Linked DNA regions of Homo sapiens. The protein of the gene in region 1 purifies or fractionates together with the protein of each later gene. This does not show direct contact. Each region holds a gene or a part of one and is shown in the gene's direction. Other genes may lie near its edges. The genes, in order: SLC30A7, HACL2 and METTL9.

Evidence for each region.
Region 2: the proteins of SLC30A7 (region 1) and HACL2 purify together in Homo sapiens (co-immunoprecipitation; 2 studies listed by BioGRID and IntAct, with this or other methods). This does not show direct contact.
Region 3: the proteins of SLC30A7 (region 1) and METTL9 purify together in Homo sapiens (co-immunoprecipitation; 2 studies listed by BioGRID and IntAct, with this or other methods). This does not show direct contact.

Annotation. Positions count from the first base shown.
Region 1 is NC_000001.11:100,893,913-100,897,659, forward strand, and holds the start of SLC30A7 (zinc transporter 7), read left to right. Parts: upstream 1-2,177; 5' UTR 2,178-2,350; coding exon 2,351-2,430; intron 2,431-2,657; coding exon 2,658-2,759; intron 2,760-3,747. UniProt on the Homo sapiens protein: Zinc ion transporter mediating zinc entry from the cytosol into the lumen of organelles along the secretory pathway.
Region 2 is NC_000019.10:15,123,752-15,127,498, reverse strand, and holds the start of HACL2 (2-hydroxyacyl-CoA lyase 2), read left to right. Parts: upstream 1-1,712; 5' UTR 1,713-1,843; exon of another isoform or gene 1,844-2,119; intron 2,120-2,306; exon of another isoform or gene 2,307-2,429; 5' UTR 2,430-2,439; coding exon 2,440-2,574; intron 2,575-2,993; exon of another isoform or gene 2,994-3,035; intron 3,036-3,273; exon of another isoform or gene 3,274-3,339; intron 3,340-3,747. UniProt on the Homo sapiens protein: Endoplasmic reticulum 2-OH acyl-CoA lyase involved in the cleavage (C1 removal) reaction in the fatty acid alpha-oxydation in a thiamine pyrophosphate (TPP)-dependent manner. Involved in the phytosphingosine degradation pathway.
Region 3 is NC_000016.10:21,651,563-21,655,309, forward strand, and holds part of METTL9 (protein-L-histidine N-pros-methyltransferase isoform 1 precursor), read left to right. Parts: intron 1-969; coding exon of another isoform or gene 970-1,036; exon of another isoform or gene 1,037-1,046; intron 1,047-3,664; coding exon 3,665-3,747. Other genes in the region: IGSF6 (immunoglobulin superfamily member 6 precursor), read right to left, coding at 970-1,036. UniProt on the Homo sapiens protein: Protein-histidine N-methyltransferase that specifically catalyzes 1-methylhistidine (pros-methylhistidine) methylation of target proteins.

The DNA of each region.
Region 1 (3,747 bases):
GAAACTGATGTAACTGAAATTAAACTTCAATTTCTCGTACCCATTTCAAAACTATTTGAAAAGAGGTAATGTAGGTTTCTCCATAAACCACTTAAGCGATTTCTGATTTGTAGCAATACAGTATAAAATATAGGACTTATTTTCAAAGGCAGAATACAAAAAAGTTCAAAATGCAGCTGACCTTGATGAGTTAGGATTATGCTGGAAATCAGTTGCTGAAATTTAATTATTTCTATTACTTCTCCCGCCTTCTCCCAAGTTAAATCATATTGAATAAGGGCGTTTTGGAGAAAAATCCAATTACCATAGAATTATTTATCTTTAAACTATCTAGTTTGCACCCAATTAATTTTTCCTCAGCAGTGCAGTAGAGTAAAATTCAAGGTCTACTGCTAATACAAAAACTTCCTTCCAAAAAAAGAGTAAATGCTACTAATTTTAAATATTTCTACACTTAAATTAAAAGAATGAAATATACGCTAACAAAGGCAAATACAAAATACTCTTCCCAGAACTTACTTCTGAAACCTAGCTGTTTTTACACAGCAGTTTTAATTAACATTTTTCAAAATTGTAGAATAAGTACATATTTTCAAAAATAAAACCACCGAATACTCCATACACACACACAAAGTTCTCAGAACGAGAGCAAAACATGCATATATCCTCACTACAAAAAGAAAAATACTAATACTGGAGCATTTTGCTGTGTCTCCTTACCTCGAGTGCAGTAGATTGCAGTAGGGCCAGCCGATTTATTTCCCTGCAGCTTAGTTATCATAAAACGGAAGGGGCGTCTCGTTTGCTCATTTTTGTTTTTTTTTCTAAACCAAGTAGCGTGCATCTATCCTTCTCCATTAGCTGGATTAACAACCTGGAAAAAGTGCCGCCCGCAAAGTGAGCGCCTGGAGCAAGGGACAGTCCCCGAGTGGCCGCCCCTCCCTTTCGGTGACGCTCCACTTCCTGTCGGCCTAAAAGGCATTCCCAGGAAGCTCGGTTTTGTAGTTTCCAGCCCACCTCCGAAAGCCAATCCTTTCCTCCATTTCTTCTCCAAGGTAACAACTTTTAAACATTCACGTGACGGACCACCTTCCCTCAGCCAAACAACTTCCCTGAAAGGCGCCCGAAGGAGCCTTCCCATCCACCGCGGGTGCCCAGGAAAGGCCTGTGGGGCTCTCCTCCCCGCGCTCCACACGCCCTCGCATCCCACCGAGGGGCCAGCTTCTGCCTGCACGTTGCTGAAACTGGCCTGGAGGTTCTGACAAGAATTAGAGCGGCGGCCGTTGCCCCGGGGATGACCTGGAAGCGAAAGAGACCGGCACGAATTCTAGAGTTTCGGGGTTTCCGCGGGTTGAGATTGTACGGGAAACAATGCATTAACCAAACCTAAAAATCAAACAAACACGTCTGGTAGAACCTACCATTAAAAAGCTTCTTTCCTATACTACGTTTAACAGCCTTTATTTTGAAAGACATTGATTGATGCCAGGCATGGTGGCGCACGCCTGAGGTCTCAGCTACTCCGGAGGCTGAGGAGGATCACTTGCGTCCGGGAGTTCCAGGCTGTAGTGAGCCTCATTGTGCTCCAGCCTAGGTGACAGGGCGAGACCTTGTCTCTTAAAAAAATAAAGAAAGAAAAACATTGATCGCCTCCTGCGTGGCAGTCCAGAAGGGTCAAGCGCTGTTTTCGGGGTGGCGTGGAATGGATTCCTAAGATTTGGGCGCCCATAGAGTTAACGCAGCAAAACGATCACTTGCGTTTCCTGCGGACTGGCGGCAATAGAACACGTGGCTGCCTAGACTCTTAATCACTGATATCTACCACACCAGGATTTAATGCCAGTTGGGAGGAAATGGCGAAAGGGCAGGCGCTGGAGCCCATGCATCCGGGAACACTGGTGGTAGGCGGTCGGGTGGGCGTGAGCGGGCTCTCCATCTCCCAGCCCAGTCTGCAGGTCGCCACCTCAGGATTTTCTTCCTGAGTCCGGGTGGCAGGATTCCATCCCAGGTCAGCCCCTCACACCCCCTGGTAGTTGCCACCTCCTGGCGTCCCTCCAACAGCTCCAGCACCTTTCTCATCCCGCCCCCGCCGCAAGCCACGCCCTCCGCCGCGCAGGCCCCGCCCGCGACCGGCCTCCCTCCTTTCCTGTCCCAGGACGCGTTGCGCGGCCCGGGCCGGAAGTAAGCGAATTCCCGGGTGTGTGTCTGTGTCTGTCTGTGTCTCGCAGCGGCGCGCGGCCCCGGACAAGCGCTGGGGATTCCCGTTTGAGGCGTCACTACTGTCACTGCCATCACCCCACGGAGCCACTTCTAGAGGGGAGTAGACCCGGCCCTTCGCCGGGCAGAGAAGATGTTGCCCCTGTCCATCAAAGACGATGAATACAAACCACCCAAGTTCAATTTGTTCGGCAAGATCTCGGGCTGGTTTAGGTGCGGGGTGCTGTGTTTGCGGGGAGGGGGTGTCCGGCAGAAAGGGAGAAGGCCCAGACCTCAGGATGGCCCGAGGTCCAGTGAGGGAGAGTCAAAAACTCCCCGTCAACCCCTAGCTGTGAAGAAAGGAGCATGTGAACTGGGAGGGTCTTGAAGAGGGTACCCAGCCTCGGGGTCCCGGCACCTCCTTAACTCTCCCGGCTCTTTTCCACGTGTATCATTCCCAGGTCTATACTGTCCGACAAGACTTCCCGGAACCTGTTTTTCTTCCTGTGCCTGAACCTCTCTTTCGCTTTTGTGGAACTACTCTACGGCATCTGGAGCAACTGGTAACCAAAGGGGAAAATGGTTTGGGCGGAAGCTGGGTGTGAGGGAGACGAAGCACTGTTTGCTTAATGCCACGTAGCTCCTCACTAGGAGGTTCAGGTCCTACCTTTGTTACCTACCTCTGCTGCTGAGTTGCTTTCTCATACCCACACCAATCTGGTAGGGCTACAGTTCTTGAGTAAGATCTGGGCCTATCCTGTGCAACCTCTCTTGTCACGCTCCCCTCCAGTTCCATCAGACAAGACTGACAAGCCCCTCCTTATTTTAGCAGATGGGCAGAATCTTTCATTTCTAATTGTAGGCCTTAGGTTTACCCACTTTGTTGGAATTGGGAGAAACTTGTTTGCTGCCTCTCTCGGGGGGGAGTGGCATTTGGATTTCACCCTTAAGATTCTGAGAGAGTATATCTGAGATGTTCTACTTAGTTTGTTATTGGGGCTTGGAATGGGAGGTTTTATAAAGTGATATCGGGAGGAATATGTGTCATTCTCTTCTCTCTTTAATGCCGAAACTGTCTCATGATTTTCCTGTAGTCTTAACTGCGATGTAAAAATCCCATATAGTTTCTAGAAACAACATTTCTTGGGTTTTGGTGGCACCTTTGAGGGTTTTTGTTTTTTTTGAAACATCCTTAGGAGGAGGAAAATCTAGTGTGTAACTCTGTGGCAGTGAAGTTACTATTATTCAGGTATTTGCTGTTGAGTAACTTAAGGTCTTATGAAGTTGTTCTGCTAACAAGACTGTCACACTCCTAGGTGTACTAATTCTGTCTTTAGATCCCATACTCCTTCAAAAATCTGATGAAAGCCAATACTCAGAATTGTACATAAAGCTTCAGGATGTTGTTGGGTTCCCTGTACTAAATCTTGGACTCTAGATTAAGAACCTGTTTTCTATTTATTAAATAGACTTAGTCTCTGTTGTTTAAGACCCATTTTCAGAGAAAATCGCTGTCCTTGATCTTCTGTTGAGATCAAACATTGACAGGTA
Region 2 (3,747 bases), on another chromosome or scaffold:
GCCATCTTCTCTACCTGGATTACTCTTTCTCCAGATCCTTGTGGGGCCCATGTCCTCACTTCCTCCTGGTCTCTCTGCTCAACTGTCACCTCCTTAGAGAGTCCTTCTGCTTGTCCTAAGAGAGGCCCTTACTGTATCCCTCTAACTCAATAATTTGTTGCACTTCTCTTTAAATTTCGATCAATTTAGATACATGGTATTTGTTTCCTCCCCTGCCCCACACCCACCCCCTTTTTTTTAGAGACAGGGTCTTGCTCTGTTGCCCCAGCTGGAGTGCAGTGGCACGATCACAGCTCACTGTAGACACAACCTCTTGGGTTCAAGCAATCCTCCCTTCTCAACCTCCCAAGCAAAAGGGATAACAAGCACGTGCCACCATACTCAGCTAATTTTTTTTCTTTTAAAAAAAATTTTTTTTAGACAGAGTCTTGCTCTGTTTCCCAGGCTGGAGTGCAATGGCGTGATCTCAGCTCACCGCAACCTCCACCTCCCGGGTTCAAGCGATTCTCCTGGCTAAGTTTGTTTGTTTGTTTGTTTTTTGGAGAGACTGGGTCTCACTTTTTGGCCCCGGTTGGTCTCAAATTCCTGGCCTCAAGCGATCCTCCTGTCTTGGCCTCCCAAAGTGCTGGGATTACACACATGGACCACCATGCCAGGCTTGTTTCCCTTTTTAAAAAAATCACTTGTCCTCTGTGTATATTTGTTTCAGGGACTGTTGAATAATCCAGCTTTCGGCTGAGAAGCTTTTTGGACATTTGCCTAGTGACAATCTTTCTTTATCTGGGGAGAGATTGGTCAGATAATTAGTCTTGGAGCATGTTAAAGCTTTGTCTCCCAAGAAAGAATTTACATCTATTACAACATCTTTCTCTCTCTCTGGAAAATTGTATCCTTGTTATTAAGACTTTTTTTTTCTTTTTTAGCTTTACAGAAAAGCTGCAAAGATAGCAAGATAATTTTTGTCTACTCTTTATCCAGCTTCCCTGAATGCTAACATCTTATATAACCATAATACATTTACTGAAACAAAAAGATTAACACTGGTTCATTACTACTAACTCAACTCCAAACTTTATTTGGATTTCACCAACTTTATCCACAAATTTGTCCTTTTTTTGATTCCTGGATCCAGTCCAGGGTACTATATTGAATTTAGTTGTCACAGCTCCTTTCCCTCCTCTAGTCTGTGGCAGTGCCTCAGTCTTTGTTTTTCATGACCTTGACAGTTTTGTAGAGGTCTGGTTAGGCATTTTGTAGAATGTGACTCAGTGTGAATTTCCTTTGCTTACTACTATACCTATTATACAAAAAATATACACATATATATATATACATGCACAAATATTTATTTATAGTGTGGAAAATATACATAACATAAAATTTACCATTTTTTAAGTATTATTATTATTTTGTGAGACATGGTCTTGCTCTGGTACGGCCCCGCTGGTGTGGAAAGCGAGCTGTGTTCGGAGGGCCTGAACCTACGGGCTTCCACCGTGGGGCCAATGGAAAGCTGCGGAAGGTGGGCCCCCAAAGGTCTGGGCTCCTGAAGCCGCTGAGGGGCGTGGCCTCCTGGTTTTAAAACATAAAATGGGTGTGAGGTCTGCAGTGCGAGCCAATGAAAGGCAAGGGGAGGCGGGGTCTATGAGGGAGGCGGCCAGTAGAGGCAAGGCTCTTTCGGGTGGCCCCGGAGCGGGGCTCCGACTGTGCGCATGCGCATCGGGCCGGACTACGGGGCGCCGCTGAGCCAAGTGGGCCACCCGGGCACGGCCACGCTCCCGGGTCACGTGACACGGAGGGGGCCGAATTCTGCTGGAGGCAGCGCCATATCCTGGAGGTGAAGGTGAATAGCGTCGGGGGTCGAGCTGGTGTGGGAGAACCACATCCTGATGCGATGTGACCTCGACCCAGCCTGGCCCGGGGTCGGGGATCAGGCTCGGGCCCGTGCGCTCTTTAAGGGAGAGGCGTGGGTTGCGTGGAGGGTCGCGCCCGCTAACCCGGGGGCGTGACCTCGTGCCTCTTGGTGACGTAACATGGGGCGGGCTCACTACTGGGGCTGAGATTTGGGGTCCGGTTGTGGAAAGAGAGGCGGGGCTTCCGCCTGTCCATTGACAAGTAGGTAAGTGGAAGATAACTGTGTGGTGCTGTCGTCGCCACCTTGACTTGTGGTGGCTAGTTTGGGTGGGAGTGGTGGTGATGTAAAGGACTGGGGCTAGCCCCGCGAGGGGCGTGACCTTGTCACGGAGAGGCATGGCTTCACCCCGAGCCTAGGCGCACAAAGGGCGTGGTCTGGCAGGGTTGGGGGCGTGGCCGCACAGAAACTGGCGGCAAGGGTCGTGGCCCTGGATCCTGCTGCGAGAAGGGGCGCGATTTCTTCCGGAGAGGTTCCCTGTCGCGCCCAAGTCTGGGAAGTGCCCTTTCTCTCTTAGGTACCACCTCATGGAGACCCCCGCGGCCGCCGCCCCCGCTGGGAGCTTATTCCCCTCCTTCCTGCTCCTGGCCTGCGGGACGCTGGTGGCCGCCTTGCTGGGCGCCGCTCACCGCCTGGGGCTCTTCTATCAGCTGCTGCACAAGGTGCGGGGCACAGAATGGGAGGTGGGCTGGGGGCAGTCAAAGAGGGAGGGGCCTCGTGGTGCTGCTTCCAGCTCACTCATTGTGCAGGGTGGGAAAGCGAGCCCCGACTAGTCCAGAGGGACTGGTAAGAGGTTCTGTCCAGGGCCCTGTCTCCATTGCCACGCTGTGTATGGAGGCCTGGACTTTGCCACTGGTAAGAGAGAACACGGAAGCTGCCGCTGCCGGGGCACTCGCACCCCACCTACCTCCTTCCCCAGTGACTCTTTTCACAGAACAGATGGACAGCACTCTGTGCTCCCTAACCTGGATGGGATAAATGGGGCAGAGGGCAGGCTCCAGCGAGGGGGTGGCAGTGACAGTTTCATAACAGTTGCCCTCTGCTGAGCTCAGTACTGTAGACTTTCTTACCTACCCCTTACCTTTTCCTTGAAAGTAGGTGCTGTTCTTTCTGTCTTCATTTTCTGCAAGAGGAAGCTGAGGCTCAGAGAGATTGTGTGGTGGTTTGCCCTAGGTGACATGTTTGGAGAGAGCTGACCCCACAGGTGTCCCCCTAAACTCCTTGCACCTCTGTTTGAAATTTACCCCTTCTCCAGACCCCTTCCTCAACCCTTTCTCTCCTAGCAGGGACCAAGCTTGACCTCTCCCTCCCCAAACCCTTCTCTACTGCTTCCTCTGCTAGCCAGGAGTGATGCCACTGACCTTCAGGACTTAGGAGATTTAAAGCAAGCCTTGGATGTGTAGGGCTGTGAGGCAGCTGGAGTTGGGAGGCCTCGGCACAGTCTGTGCCAGCAGCTCACTCCCGTGCCAGGCACATGGTGGCTGGCAGCCTGTCAACTAAGCCCTGGGCCTGTTTAGCGTCCATCAGGAGGGCATCAGGGAGGCTGGGATCAGGAGCCCAGCTGCCAGGCTCTGCAAGGATACTGGAGGGCAGGGAGGAGTCACAGCAGATGGCTCCCTGCCATCTGCTCTGCGTGCGTTGTGCCCCTGGCCAAACCCCCTGGGTTATATAACCCTCTCCTCTCTCCCTGATTGCCCTGCCATCCTGGAGACAGGCAGTGTAACAGTGGGGCACTTAAGAGCGTGGGTTCTATTGAACTTTCAGTCTTACTTGGGCAAGCCTTGATGTCCTCAGCTGTAAGAGGGATGTAATGACAAGAGGATCTGATAAGATGT
Region 3 (3,747 bases), on another chromosome or scaffold:
AGTGCTGGGATTACAGGCATGAACCACCACGCCCAGCCCAAAGCTTTATTATATTAGATTTCAAATTTCTAACATATCAAAGTAGCGAAGTAGTACAGTCAACCCCCTGCCATCACATGGCTTCGACCCAATCTTGTTTCTTTTCTCCTCCCACCTACTCCCTCACTCCCATATTATTTTAGAGCAAATCCCAGCCATTTTATCTGCATCTTTCAGAATATATCTCTAAAAGACAGGAATTCTTCTTTAAAATAATGCTAATTAAAATAGTCTATGAAAGTAATATATACTTATTAGCAAAAAACAGGTTATTAAAAGTAGAAGCAAAAAGTCACCCATAGTCCTTTTGCCTGAAATAACTCCCATTAACATTTTGATATATTTCTTCACAGATGAGAAAAAATTAAGAACTTTCCCCCCTTCCCTGCCCTATAATCCAAATTGTGTGGGCAAATCTGAGATTACTAGATGTATTGGAAATCCTTTCTCTTTCATAGATAAAAAAACAGAAGTAGACAGAATTTTAAAAATAGATATACTATGGGATGGCTATTGGAGTCATGGCAGTTTTTTTTTTCTTAAATGAAAAGTACTTTTATAGAAATTGTTCTTTGAAAATATTCAGCAAATAATCATTTATTGCTTTCTATGTGCAGATCAAGTTTGTATGATAATTAAATTATTGATAACTTATACCTACGATTTTAAGAATATTTTCAACCCTTTGGTCAGATTGTCTCCAATTAGCATAATAGCAAAGAGACTTTTCAAGGTTAATATGAAACTTTTTCTCAGCTATTTTTTTATTGTCTATTTCTCAGGGGAAAAAGGAAACTTATCCTCTTAGGCAGTTTTCATAATGTTATACATTTAAAAATTAATCTGAAGGAGCTTAAAATATAAATGCATTAGGTGAAAAATAGCAGTTGATTTAAATAAAATGAAGGAGGAGAAGAAAAAGAACCTTACCGACACAAAATAGAATGAGATTGGTTTGCAGATGGCGAGCGATGTTGCTTCTGCTCGCAGTCCCCATTTCTGTGTATGCCGGGGCGGGTTGGGGTGTGTATTTGAAAGGAAAGTTGGCTTTCTTTTTTCAGAAGGGAAGAAGAGCTGAAGAGAGGAACCTCTTATGAAGGAACCATAATCAGGAACTTTTTGAAATTGTGCAAGGATGGCTTCACCATTTAACATTGAGATTTTGGCCTGGAGCACATTTAGAAATGTGCATATCTTTTTTTTTTCCATGGATTTTACAGTTGTCATAGGTGTTAGATGTTTCTGGGTGAGATTTTGATTTACACCTAGCACATATTTCCAGGAAGGAGTATTGTTTGACAAATAATTCGTACTTGGATTTTTCAGAACAGTTCAGTCACTGTCTAGGGTACCTGCTCTGGGTGCCACTCTGGGCCAGTAACTGCTGGGAACAAAGAACAGCAGAAGGAGAAGTGGCTTTGTGTAGAGATGAGAAAAGTTAGTAAACAACACATTCTAATGCAGCGAATAAATAAATTGTCTGTTATTAACTTTTTGTACTCCAGTTTTGAATCCAAAGACACCTGCCTTCCCCCCTTTTTTGACAGGGTCTCTATCACCCAGGCTGGAATGCAGTGGCAAGATTGCAGGTCATTGCAGCCTCAGCTTCCTGAGTAGCTGGGACTACAGGCATGCACCACCACCCCTGGCTAATTTTTTTTTTTTTTTGTAGATTCTGTGTTGTCTAGGCTAGTCCTGCCCTCAAGCGATCCCCCTGCCTTGGCCTCCCAAAGTGTTAGGATTACAGGTGTGAGCCACCATGCCTGGCCCAAAGACCCCCTTTTAATGTGTTGAGAAACAAATATGTGGGCCCTCTGTCCTCTGTGTCCTCTCCCCCAGCACTTAGTGGTGATTCAGTAAGGGTCTTCTTTGTAAAGCAGCAGAAACAGACTCAGGCTGACTTAAAAGGAAATTTATGCAAACATTTGAAGGTAGATCCTAGAGTCACTGGGAGGGCTAGTGAATCTTGTGTGGGGTCCACAGCCAGGAAGAATGCCTCAAATCACACCATAAACAGGTCTGAAGAGGATGCTACTGCCACTGCCAAACACTAGGTGCCATCAGCCCTGTTGTCAGCATCGCTCAACCACTGCCCCAGCCCCTTGGTCTCACTGCCATTGCTCCACCCCCAGAGAAGGAGAAGCTCACATCCCCACTACTCTGGGTCACTGGCTCTCCATTCCAGGGCATGGGCAAGTGTGCCTGGCTTAGGCTGCGTGCCAGTGCCTCAGCTGCACGGCAGGCCAGGAAAGCGGCTCCCAGGCCTTGTGTCTCTCCCAGACTCTGGGCAGGCAATTCCCCAGACATGGGAAGAGCGTCATCTGCACCACTGAAAATTATGAAAAATCTCCCCACCATGATATGATGTCTGTGCCCTTGGCATCTGCTCATGATATATTTTCTCATTAACAGAAAGTTATTCTCAGTCTGTTTTGTTTTTTTTTTTTTTTTTTTTTTTGAGACAGAGTCTCGCTCTGTCGCCCAGGCTGGAGTGCAGTGGCACGATCTTGGCTCGCTGCAAGCTCCGCCTCCCGGGTTCACACCATTCTCCTGCCTCAGCCTCCCAAGTAGCTGGGACTACAGGTGCATGTTGCCATGCCCAGCTAATTTTTTTGTATTTTTTTTAGTAGAGACGGGGTTTCACTGTGTTAGTCAGGATGGTCTTGATCTCCTGACCTCGTGATCCGCCCACCTCGGCCTCCCAAAGTGCTGGGATTACAGGCATGTGCCACCACGCCCGGCCTCAATCTGGTTTTAACACTTCAACAGATGTATGTAGTTTTTGTATCACCATAGCACCTAAAAAGTACCCCCAAAGTTAAATATACTGTCATCTCTGTGTGTGTGTCTGTAGTCAGTGCCAGGTTTGTATGTGAATTTGAGGACCTTCCCTAGTCCCCTTGTCCCCCAGGCATCTCCTGCTCATAGGTTTGGAAATGACTGATAGAGGCTTCATCTCTAGTCCAAGAAATGCTGGACGGTGTATCCATCCTACTGTTCCATCTCTCTCTGGTCCTGGAGCTTAATGTTTATGAAATTGTTCTGAAAAGGCAAAGAATGAGTCAACTTCCCTAGAAAAACTCCCCAATGATCTGCTTTTCTAAATTAAAATCCTTCATGAGCCTGTTTTTATTTTCAGCCTAATAAATCTCTCTAGGTAGTAAGTTGCATAAGTTTACTATGCCAGTGGTATTTTCTTGCATTTGTCCAAAACTGTCCTTCAGATATTACATGTTGCTCTCTGTTTCAGTATTCCAGCATTTAATGACCAGTTTTCCAAACCCATTAACCATTACACCCTGCAGTCAGTCTATTGGCAGATACTACCCAAAACTGTCAGAGAAGATAACAGTGTGGGGCCTTGGATCCAGACAAACCTGGGCTTACATTTCCATACTGACACTCATTAACCTTGCAAGCGTGGGCAAGTTCTTCACCCCTTCTGAGTCTGTTCTTTATCTGCCCACCTGTCTCAAAGAGTACCTGGGAAGTACAAAAGAGGTAACTCATGAAGCCCTCAGGCTTGGAACGTACCAAGTCCTTGGTAGATATGGCTCCTCCCTGCTTCCCTCTTTAAATCACTTGTTTGTTCAAGAATTTAACTGAATGTTCTTATTTGTATTAGTAGGTGGCAAGTGGGAGAAACCATCAGAAATTTTGGAAATCAAAGGACAGAACTGGGAAGAACAAGTGAATAGTCTGCCTGAA